Regions from separate parts of the Homo sapiens genome. Here regions 1, 2 and 4 are each linked to region 3. Evidence: fine-mapped expression QTL. A gene starts in region 3. Each other region holds a variant in brackets. All regions are shown on one strand. Distances are between the middles of the regions. Region 1 has its middle 8.4 kb from the start of LRMDA. Region 2 overlaps LRMDA (leucine rich melanocyte differentiation associated). Region 3 holds the start of ZNF503 (zinc finger protein 503). Region 4 overlaps ZNF503-AS1 (ZNF503 antisense RNA 1).

Region 1 (2,682 bases), 22 kb after region 3:
TGCCATCTTCAAAATACATCCAGGCACTGTTCACAGTCCACAGGATTCCTGTGACAGCCTGCTGTCTTGCCTCCTGGCCTCTGTCCCTTCTCCATGATCCATTCCCAGCACAGCAGCCAGAGCAGTCTTTTTTTATTTTTTTTATTTTTTTGAGACAGAGTCTTGCTCTATCGCCCAGGCTGGAGTGCAGAGGCCCGATCTCGGCTCACTGCAACCTCCACCTCCCAGGTTCAAGCAATTCTCCTGCCTCAGCCTCCCAAGTAGCTGGGATTTCAGGCATGCACCACCACACCTGGCTAATTTTTGTACTTTTAGTAGAGACAAGGTTTCATCATGTTAGTGAGGCTGGTCTCGAACTCCTGACCTTGTGATCCGCCTGCCTCGGCCTCTGGAAGTGCTGGGATTACAGGTGTGAGCCACCACGCCCGGCCCAGAGCAATCTTTTTTTTTTTTTTTTTTTTTTTTTTGAGACAGAGTCTCACTCTGTTGCCAGGCTGAAGTGCAGTGGCCCAATTTAGGCTCATTGCAACCTCCGCCTCCTGGGTTCAAGCGATTCTCCTGCCTCAGCCTCCTGAGTAGCTGGGACTACAGATGTGCCCCACCACGCCCAGCTAATTTTTGTAGTTTTGATAGAGACGGGGTTTCACCATGTTGGCCAGGATGGTCTTGATCTCTTGACCTCGTGATCCGCCCGCCTTGGCCTCCCAAAGTGCTGGGATTACAGGCATGAGCCACCACACCCAGCCAGCCAGAGCAGTCTTTACAAAATGTGAGTCAGATTAGGCCCATCCTCTGCTCAGGACCCCCGATTTAGCCAGGAGTGCTCATGCCTGTAATTCCAGCACTTCGGGAGGCCGAGGCGGGCAGATCCCGCAAGCTCAGGAGTTTGAGATCAGCCTGGGCAACATGGCAAAACCTCATCTCTCCAAAAAATTAAAAAAACATTACCCAGGTGTAGTGATGCGCACCTGTAGTCCCAGGTCCTCTGGTTGCTGAGGTGGAAGAATTGCTTGAACCTGGGAGGTTGAGGCTGCAGTGAGCTGGGATCATTCCACTGCACTCCAGCCTGGGTGCCAGAGCAAGACCCTGTCTCAAAAACAAAAACAAAACAAACAAAAAACCCTCTCCATCTCAGGTGGAGTACAAACTCAAGTCCTAACCTCAGCCTATTTGGCCCTACATGATCTGTCCCCTTCACACCTGCCCTGTGACTT[C/T]ACTTACCATTACTCTCCCCCATCACTAACTCCAGCCCGACGTGCACTTGCTGCCTCAGGGCCTTTGCACTCGCTGTTCCTATTGCTAGGCACATTTTCCCCCTAGAAGTTCACTTGGCTCTCCCCTACTTCCTGCAGATCTCAGCTTCATCTCAGTTTCTCAGTGGGGCCTTCCCTCGTCACCCTGTGTACCCGGCACTCCTGTCCCCCTTCCCTGCTGCGTTGTTCTCCACAGGACTCATCACACTCTGTATTTTCCTTCTCCCCTTCCCCTTTCCTTTCCTTTCTTTTTTTCTTGTGTTGCTCTGTTACCCAGGCTGGAGTGCTGGGATCACAGCTCACTGCATCCTCATCCTCCTGGGTTCAACTGATCCTCCTACGTCAGCCTCCTGTGTAGCTTGGACTACAGGCGCGCACCACCATGCCCAGCTAATTTTTTGGTAGCTTTGTAGAGACAGGCAAAACCACATTTACCAGGCTGGTCTTGAACTCCCGGGCTCAAACGATCCACCCACCTTGGCCTCCCAAAGTGCTGGGATTACAGGCGTGTGCCACCACACCTGACCTCCTTGTTTATTTTCTGTTCTTCTACTGAAAATGAGCTCCACAAGGGTAGAAACTTTCTTTTTCTTTTTTTTATAGCTATGTCTCCAGAGTTTAGATTCCTGTCAGGCAGACAGTAGGCACTCAACTAGTATTTTTTGAACAAATGAACTGAATGAATAAATTTCTAGCACCTCAGTATAAGCTATAAATCCTCTCAGGTTTAAGGAAGTACTGGTACCTATAATGTCTGCATTCTCTACTGGCCACTAGTAGCTATTTCAGTGAGACGGGAGACCAAGACATGCCTAGGAATGGGGTTCAGGGTTCAGACCATAGCTGTGAGATGGCACACATGGATCCAAGGTTGGCATGTGTCTCACGTGGCTATGTGCTTACATGTATGTTTGTGGGCTTTTTTTTTTTTTTTTGAGACAAAATCTTGCTCTGTCACTTAGGCTGGAGTGCAGTGGTATGATCTCAGCTCACTGCAGTCTCCGCCTCCCTGGTTCAAACGATTCTCCTGCCTCAGACTCCCAAGTAGCTGGGATTATAGGCACCTGCCACCACACCTGCCTAATTTTTGTAATTTTAGTGGAGATGGTGTTTCACCATGTTGGCCATGGTGATCTAACTCCTGACCTTAAGTGATCCACCTGCCTTGGCCTCCCAAAGTGTTGGGATTACAGGTGTGAGCCAATGTGCCCAGCCTGTTTGTGTGCTTTTGTGTGTCCACAAGATTCTGTGCCAGTGCAGACATGCATAAGGGCCAGCACTCCTTCTGCGTTTTTCCCTCTTCAAGAAAACCACAGATGCTTTATAGAGCTGTGGAACCTCTGTGTGTCCATGAATGACTCTGCTTCCAGCTGCTGCATCCCAAAGCCTTAGTCCACCTGTGATTTGGAGCTGAGGAGCAAATCAAAGC
Region 2 (2,682 bases), 36 kb after region 3:
GGCTTGTATCTGCAATTCCAGCTATTTTAGGAGGCTGAGGCGAGGGGATTGTTTGAGTTCAGAGTTTGAGATCAGCCTGAGCAACACAGTGAAACCCCATCTCTTTAAAAAAAAAAAAAAAAAAGAGAGAGAGAAATCTCACACCCACACATGGATTTGTAAGCACTCCATGGCCCCCAAGTTGGAAGTCCTTATTTATGGCATAGGACTTGATCTGGGCTCTATCACTAAGAAGCTGTATTGTGCTGGGCAGGGCTCTGGAGTCTTAGTTTCCTTGTATAAAACATCAGAAGTTTTGACAAACTGGGTGTCTATTAGATTTAGTCCTTGGCCATTCTAAGAGGAAAGAGCCCAGTTTCTGCATCTAAAACTCAACGTCTCTGCTATATATATCACAGAGGTCTTGACTGATAATATGTGCAAGACAGTAGTGCAGGCTGGGGTGAATGGGATGGATTTTCTGGTGAGCGCCATGGACCTGGGGTTCATTGTGAACGTACAATACAGAAGAAGCTGCTGAATTTTTTTTTTTTTTTGAGACAAGTCTGGCTCTGTCGCCCAGGCTGGAGTGCAGTGGTGCAATCTCGGCTCACTGCAAGCTCCGCCTCCAGGGTTCACACCATTCTCCTACCCTAGCCTCCTGAGTAGCTGGGACTACAGGCACTCCCCACCATGCCCGGCTAATATTTTTTGTATTTTTAGTAGAGATGGGGTTTCACCATGTTAGTCAGGATGGTGTCGATCCCCTGACCTCATGATCCTCCCACCTCGGCTTCCCAAAGTGCTGGGACTACAGGCATGAGCCACCGCGCCTGGCCAAGAAGCTGCTGACTGAGCAGAGATCCTGAGGGAAATCGAAGTCCCCAGATAGAATAGGGCCTTATAGCCACAGTCTCTCTTTGGCATATGATTTCTGTCTCAGCTTGGAAGCAGAACTTAATTTATTACACAAGGAACTGTGAAGAAAGATGGACCCCAGGTAGAAAGAGGAGAGATTGCTAGATTGAACTTAGAGTCCTTTATTTTTTAGCCTATATCTTCTTGAGTCAAAATTACTTTATTGGAGTCAGCTATTTTTCTATCCTTTCTCCTTATTTTCTCTCCTCCTAGAATGAAGTTACTGAAGGAGAGTGGATATAGGATATTGCATTGTCAGCAGTTTGTCCTCATTGGATAGGAGAAGGTTGAGAGATGACTGGAGATGTTGAGGGTGTCAGGGTTCAGTGCAGCTTGTATTAGGTTGCACCATGTAAAAGAGCTATTTTGTGGTTCTAAAATGGTTGGATATTGGTAGTTCACATAGTTGAACCTAATATCTGAGGATGTAAGATGGCCACCATAGTCTTGTTTCCCATGAGGAAACACCCTCCTGGGGAGTCTCTCTCTCTCTCATTCTAAGAGATCTTTGTCTATATGTGTGGAAGAATGTGATTTGTAGGGAAACCAGAAGAAGGTTATAGC[C/T]GTGTCTTGGGCTTGAATTTCAAGCTGGGGGTTGAGCATGTTGTATTTTAGGGAAACAGCATGCATTGTGGCCCACTGGTCAACTCGGCCTCATGGGTTTATTTTATGGTTTGAGGATTAGTTGCCAATCTGCCCACAGAGTGCTGTCTGTAAAAATGGGTTCCAAAAACTGGGTGATTAGGGTAGTGAGAAAGTCCACTGACCTTCTCACAGGTTCTGGAATCAGTTCAGATTCAGTTCAGTTCAGCTTTTTAATATTTGGGCACATACAGGTACTTAATAATAAATAATCTGTAATAAATAGAAGAATGCCCAAAGAAACAGCTTTGTGCACAGAGTGGGATTGACTGCCAAAGGGCCTCTGGAGGAGGGACATTCAGGAGCCCCGGACACACATTGTTGCCCTGTTGCCTTCAAATCAGCTTTGTTTGGGTGTGGAGGGCATTTTGTACACAGTGGCAACTGGATGGGATTTGTGGTCTGGGGAGGTTTTCTTTTCCAACCCTATTTGTTCCAGCACCCTGAAGGTTGGATGCTGGTAAGTGCATCTGCTGTGTCTTTTATGAGGTAATGTGCATACCAGGGTACTGGAGGGCAGTGGAGGAGAGGGAGAAGAAGGGGCAGAGGAGCAACTGTTGCAAAAGCCCCTGAGTGAGAGGGCGATTGTTGCGGTTATATCAATGTGCCCTGATATTCAGGTTTCTTTTGGACACCTGAATCTGGCCAATTTTAGTCCAATTTCCATTGTCCTGGGATTAGTCTTCATCATGTTAACTGCACCAGGAAAGGGGAGCTGTTGGTGGAGTCCTTGGAGCCCCCAAAGCTGATTTGATCAGGGAAACAGTCACAAGTGTGGCCTTTTTGTGTGTGAGAAACATGTGTTTCAAGTTGCAGAAGCAATCATTGGATCAGTAATTTCAGGGTTGGGAGCAGCTGGGTGATTTCCATTTGCCACATTGTTTCTGTTCCATTTAATTTCCAGGTGTCCTACATAGGCCAGGACTGCAGAGAAATTCCAGAGCACCTTGGCAGGGACTGTGGACATTTCGCAAAGAGGCTTGATCTGAGCTTTAACCTTCTGAGGTATGTAACCTTCACAAGATGTAGGCCAGGCCTGGGAGGCCCAGTCCTCCTGGGTACTTTAGGGCCAAGCAGATAAAAGTCAAATGTTCCAACTCCACATGGGTTGTCCTTTTATTCAGCAGAAGGCTCTGAGATGCG
Region 3 (2,682 bases):
AGGCAACCGAGGAGAGTTTGGAGGAGGGCGAGGGGTCGGGCTTCCCGATCTGCGAACATGTTTGCGCCAACAGCGCCAGCGGGCTCTTCTTGGCATCGAGCTGCGGGGTCAGACGATGGGGGGGGAGCGTCACACAGAGAAAGAAGTGGAAACCCTTTAGAATCCTGGCTTCTGGGGTTCAAATGCCTCTCCGCAACAGCCCACGAAGATCCTCCCAGCCCCAAGGCGCAATTCTAGGCGGCACCCCCTCTTCAACACCCACTCACAAACATTCTCGCCGTTGGGAAAGGCAGCAGATTGCTCCCCCCGCCCAACCACCACCCCCAGCAGCATCTTTCCTGCCCTCTCTGAGCGCTAACTAGATTTTTAAAGAGCAAAATGTTTTGGTTTTCGGTTCCTAGACCCAGAACTGTACCCCCTCCCCACAAACACTCCTTAATTCTTCAGAGTAAGGGCTCGGGCGGCTGGCGCCTCAGAGGCTGTGTGCACACACTGGCTTCTGCGGATACGAAGGACGGCGACTTTGGAACCGTATTTCAGACCTCCGCCTGCCTTCGGTGCCGAGTGAAGGGGCCTGGGTCGGGGTAGGGGCTTTCATATCGAAAGGAGAAACAAGTATTGGCAGCCTTGCTCCCTAGCATGCACGCCCCATTCCACTTCCTCCCCCTTTTCCGCCCTAGTTTTGAGGTACGGAAGCAGTAGCCTCTTCCCCCATTCGGGAGCTGAATCACTCCGACCCCCCCACCTCCGCCCAGATCCCGAGAAAAAGAAAGCCCTAGGGTGGCAGCCAGGGTAGTGGTCCCAGTGCGATCCAGAGAGAGGGTCCTTACCTCGATGGGGCTGACCGGCGTGGAAGGCAGGGGCTGCAGGTACTCGGGGTGCAAAATGTGGCCAGTTCGTGCCGTCAGCATCTTCAGCACCTTGATTGGCAGGCGGTTGGCCTGGCGCAGGGGGTCAGAGGGGGGCACGGCGTGCACAAAAGGCTTGGTGCTGCCGGCCGGGGACGAGCCTGGGCCGGGGCCGGAGCTATTTCCAGAGAGCGCGCTGGTCCAGGCAGGGTCTGCACCGCCGCCTCCGCCTCCGCCGCCGCCGCCGCCGCTGTGCTTACTGCTTCTTAGGGCAGAAAGCGAGGGCGCTGTGCTCATGACCCACCCGCGCGCATGGGAGCAGCGGGGGGGAGGGCTCCGGGAGGCGCGGGGCGGGCTCGGGGCTGCGCGCTCGCCCCGGGAGCAGGAGCAGCGGGAGGAGGAGGAGCTGGCGCGGCGGCCACGGGCGCCCAGCGCGCCTTCTCGGCGCCTGGAGCCAGACGCGAGTAATCCTGGGTGGCCCGCAGCGGAGCCGTGGCCGGGCTAGAGGAGCCGGCTGGACTGCGGGAGTGCCGGGCGGCTCGCGGTGTCCGCCTCGGGCTGCTCCCCTGCGCTGCGTTCTCGCGGCCCCGCGCCGGCGCTGCGCTCTGCGATGCGAGCCGCTGCGTGTCCAGCCGGGGCTCTGGCGAGGAAACTCACTTCAAAAGCAGCTGCACCAAGGGGGAGATTAAAGCCTTTGCCGCCTTCCAATCAAATGGGAGCCCGAGGTGATTGGAGGGTCAAGGGGATGTGACGCGTCCCGCGCCGCCGCCGCCGCCGCTGCCAGGACTCTCAGTGCCGGTTTTAATGGGCAGCTCCCTCTTCGCCGCCCCCCTGTGTGTCCCCTCCCTCGATTTCGCTGGGAGGACGAGATGGACATTTATTCTACGTTTGCCATCCGCCGCCTCCCTCTTTTTTCCTCCTCGTCGTTCTTCCTTTCCCCAGCTCGAAAATAAACTGAAACCTTCTTTTGAAGGGGGGTGCGCGTGAGGAACAGACTGCGGGGGGTGTCCAGAAGGAGCACCGGTGGGAGTGTGGACACCGGCCGGACTGTCAACTCCAGGGGCGAAGGGAACCTGCACACCCAGTGTTTTTTCCTTCGCAGTAATCGAGATCCCGCGCGGCGCAGCGCAGCCACCAGGGTAAGAAGGCAAGGTGGGGAGCCGGAGCTGGAAGAAGCCCGCCCGCCCGCTCTAATTTCCTCAGATTCCGCGGCGGAGAAACCAGAAGCTAGATGGGCAGTCGCAGCGGCGGCGGCTCAACACCGCGAGGAGCGCTGGGCTCTCCGCCCTTCCCGGCCACGTGACGCCCGGGGACGCGTAGATTGGGGCAGCAGCGGGGGTCACATGTTTCCTCTGTTTCACCCTCAGTCTGTCCCCCAACCCCCCATTCTTACTCTCCCACCCTGTTTTCCTCCCTCCCCCCCTTCTTTGGGCATCTCCACCCCTCCATCAATTGTCAATGTTCCTCGACCGCAATCAATCAGTTATTTGTCAGCTCTTGTCAATCCTCCCGTGATTTATGTCAGCTTTTGTTGCTGATTACAAGGCGGGTGCGACTTGAAGGGAAAAAGAGAGAGGGAGAGAGAGACGGAGAGGAAGGAGGAGATTGAGAGGGAACTGGAGGAGGGGAAAAGAGGAGCGGCCTCCTGGGATGGGGGTGGGGTGGGGGCTCTAAGAAAAAGAATGAAAGAGGCGCACGGTGTCAGGAAAATGAATAGCGAGAGTAAAGTGCGCAGGTGCGCCCAGGGCGCCGAGAGGGGCGCGCAGGCCTGGAGTGTGCGCCTGCCCTCTCGGTGTCGGAGAGACGCCCTTCCACCTCTGGGAGCCTCGGTCTG
Region 4 (2,682 bases), 42 kb before region 3:
GGCCAGGATGACTTTGCTATCTGTGACAACTCTAAGGGAATCCTGGTTCCCTAAGCTTTTGCTGGATGTCAGAATTCCAGTGCCTCTCCACTGTGCTTTTCATTGGCAGAACTTTAAATGATTTTATAAAACTGCAAATGTACAAGGTAATTGAGTCTTCTGTTTTATTACCCTGAGCTGCCTGGACCTTGCCCGGCCTCCTCCTCACTCACCGAGCCACCGGAATAAAGTTGGAAGTGTTTGTGCTGGTAATATATAGGACTTAATTAACCTGGCCTTTTATAGCATTTCCAATGGAGGGTTGGAACGAACTTTGAGGCAGCTTGAGAAAGGGAAAGGGGGGCCTGGGGTGAGAGCGTGTATGTACATACAACACTTGATGTTGGTTTTTTCTTTTGTTCTTTTCTCCAGTACTTTAATCAGCATTTAATGACCCAGTCGAAAATTCATTGTTTGGACCCAAGCACTGGTGGGAAAGGCAGGAGGGGAGGCCTGCCTTCCTTCCTCCCTCCCGAGCCCTACAGCAGGCCATGGAGTGGTGAGCGAGTTCGTACAGTGCCAACCACATTCCCAGAAACTTCCAGCAGAGGTTAATCCTGCTCCTCTCAGGTAGGAGACAATGAATGGATTTTAACAAATGGACTCCCTGTGTTAGCTAATGCCAGTCCCTACTCAACCTAGGATGACTCCAATGGCGCATGTCCCCATTCCCGGGCCCTAAGGCTGCGCTAACATGCTATCCTGCCTGCCCCTTCATTCTCCACCCTGCCACATTCCCACTCCTTTCCCCTCCCAACACGAAGCCATGCCTGAGCTGGACACCCTTCCATACCAACCCAGGAAAAAGTGATTCAGCTCCGGTCCACCCTGGGTGCAGCGGTCCTTCTGCCAAGATGCCTTCATATCATACAGCTATTATTTTCGGGAGGATTCCAAGTGAGGGCAGTCAGGGTAAGTGCCTCTCACCAGCTGCCTGCTCAGACCATTGCTCCACATACCCTAGCTCATAAATCCTGCCCCAACACTGCAGAGTGGTTACATCATCCCCAAACCTCATGCAACAATTCGATTTGGAAATAAAAAGGCAGGTGTTAATTGACTCACTCCCTCTGCCCCTTTGTGGTGCCCCTGACCCTCGATAGCTTTTAACCCTGCAGTTAATAAAAGTTTTGGGCCCAGCCCCAGCACAGTTCCTCATTCATTCTTTC[A/G]TAACATCAGCAAATTCTTCCTGAGTGACTGTAATGCACAAGTCATTGGCCAGAGCCTTAGGGAAGAGGGTTAGGTGGCTAAAGATGAGCAAGAAGCATTTTAAGCATTTCATGCCTTAGGAAAGCCTACAGAGGAGGCCCACAAATAACGCAGATTTGGGCAAGAGTCCTGTGGGCCTCCAGAGAAGCCAGAGTTTTAGAAGCATCTCCGGCTGTTGAGTTGACTGCTCTTGAGTTTGCCTGTTCAGCACCCATCCCTCCTACAAGAGCAACCAGATTCTCCTTTGGAGAACCCACATCTTCACTAAATCTATGTGGTTCCAAATGTGGTTGAATGTCTGGGGTCCCCAGGAGTCAGCCCATGAGTAGAGCTAACCATTCAGGGCAGGTTAGTCCCCAGCCACAGTGATCATTTCAGCCATGGGCATTAGACTTGGGCTGGGCCAGTGAAAGCTATTGCTGCAGCTCCTGGGAAGGAGGAGCTCTCTTTTTCCCCTGGGACTGGCCAGAAGTAAGCCTGGAGCTGCTAGTAACCCTCTTGTCTTCACCTGGGAGAGGCTTCAGGAACCTGAGAGTGAAGCCAATCACTTCATTTGCTCCCGAGGGACAGCCTCTGACTTCAGGCCCCTATTGTCTCCTGCCCTGCAATGAGAAGCTCTTGGTTTTTAGGTGTGTTTATTACCCAGGCCCAAGAGACTCTCTGTCTCCCTTCAGCTAGTCTGTGCCCAAGCAGAATATCAAGGAACGCAGAGCTGAGAAATGGAAAGGAAAAGATGGTTAAGGATGTTGGATGGCTGCCAAAGGTTTCTTTTTTTTTTTTTTTTTTTTTTTTGAGACAGAATCTCGCTCTGTCACCCAGGCTGGAGTGCAGTGGCTCGATCTCCGCTCACTGCAAGCTCTGCCTCCTGGATTCACGCCACTCTCCTCCCTCAGCCTCCCTAGTAGCTGGGACTACAGGCGCCCGCCACCACGCCTGGCTAATGTTTTTTTGTATTTTTTTTAGTAGAGATGGGGTTTCGCCGTGTTAGCCAGGATGGTCTCGATCTCTTGACCTCGTGATCCACCCATCTCGGCCTCCCAAAGTGCTGGGATTACAGGCGTGAGCCACCGTGACCGGCCTGGGGGCCCTTGTTTTTCAGGTTTGCACTTGTGCGACTCTGAGAGTGGGTGCCTCCTTACATTTTGTACCCCAGGTGCCTCTCTCCTCTCCCTATTCCTGGCCCTGCTTAGGCTGCTGGAAGTCCACCCCTATCTGTCCCTGAACCCAGCCTGAAGAATTCAGAGTTGATTGCTACTGTCTTTCTTCCCCCACAGGTGGGCTTGGCCCATTCTCTAGACTTTGGAAGGTAATGTTCTATAGAGGCCTGTTCTGAAGCTTTACCAGGTCAAACCGGAGAAGAACCCAACAAGTAACTCATCCCAGCCTAACTATTCTTCAAGGGCAATCAACCTACAGCATCCAAGCACAGAGAAA

The links. PIP is the estimated chance that this variant, and not a neighbour inherited with it, causes the effect.
Region 1: its variant is fine-mapped to the expression of ZNF503 in blood mononuclear cells (TOPMed, PIP 0.95).
Region 2: its variant is fine-mapped to the expression of ZNF503 in whole blood (INTERVAL, PIP above 0.99). The same link has a PIP of 0.9 or more in T cells, blood mononuclear cells and monocytes.
Region 4: its variant is fine-mapped to the expression of ZNF503 in whole blood (TOPMed, PIP above 0.99). The same link has a PIP of 0.9 or more in blood mononuclear cells.

Annotation. Positions count from the first base shown.
Region 1 is chr10:75,421,851-75,424,532 of GRCh38, forward strand. No RefSeq gene overlaps it. Among named protein-coding and RNA genes, the nearest start is that of LRMDA, 8.4 kb to the right of the region's middle. The variant C/T (reference allele first, on the strand shown) is at 1,215.
Region 2 is chr10:75,435,951-75,438,632 of GRCh38, forward strand. It overlaps LRMDA (leucine rich melanocyte differentiation associated), which reads left to right. Exons shown (of 7, transcript NM_001305581.2): 2 at 2,444-2,544. Among named protein-coding and RNA genes, the nearest start is that of LRMDA, 5.7 kb to the left of the region's middle. The variant C/T (reference allele first, on the strand shown) is at 1,462.
Region 3 is chr10:75,400,275-75,402,956 of GRCh38, forward strand. It overlaps ZNF503 (zinc finger protein 503), which reads right to left and starts at 1,490. Exons shown (of 2, transcript NM_032772.6): 1 at 831-1,490; 2 at 1-100. The coding sequence starts at 1,145. ZNF503-AS2 (ZNF503 antisense RNA 2) reads left to right here and starts at 1,254. Exons shown (of 2, transcript NR_024421.1): 1 at 1,254-1,987. RefSeq lists an enhancer at 492-992.
Region 4 is chr10:75,358,099-75,360,780 of GRCh38, forward strand. It overlaps ZNF503-AS1 (ZNF503 antisense RNA 1), which reads left to right. Exons shown (of 4, transcript NR_038226.1): 3 at 412-609; 4 at 2,523-2,682. It also overlaps a transcript of ZNF503 not described here. Among named protein-coding and RNA genes, the nearest start is that of ZNF503-AS2, 42 kb to the right of the region's middle. The variant A/G (reference allele first, on the strand shown) is at 1,209.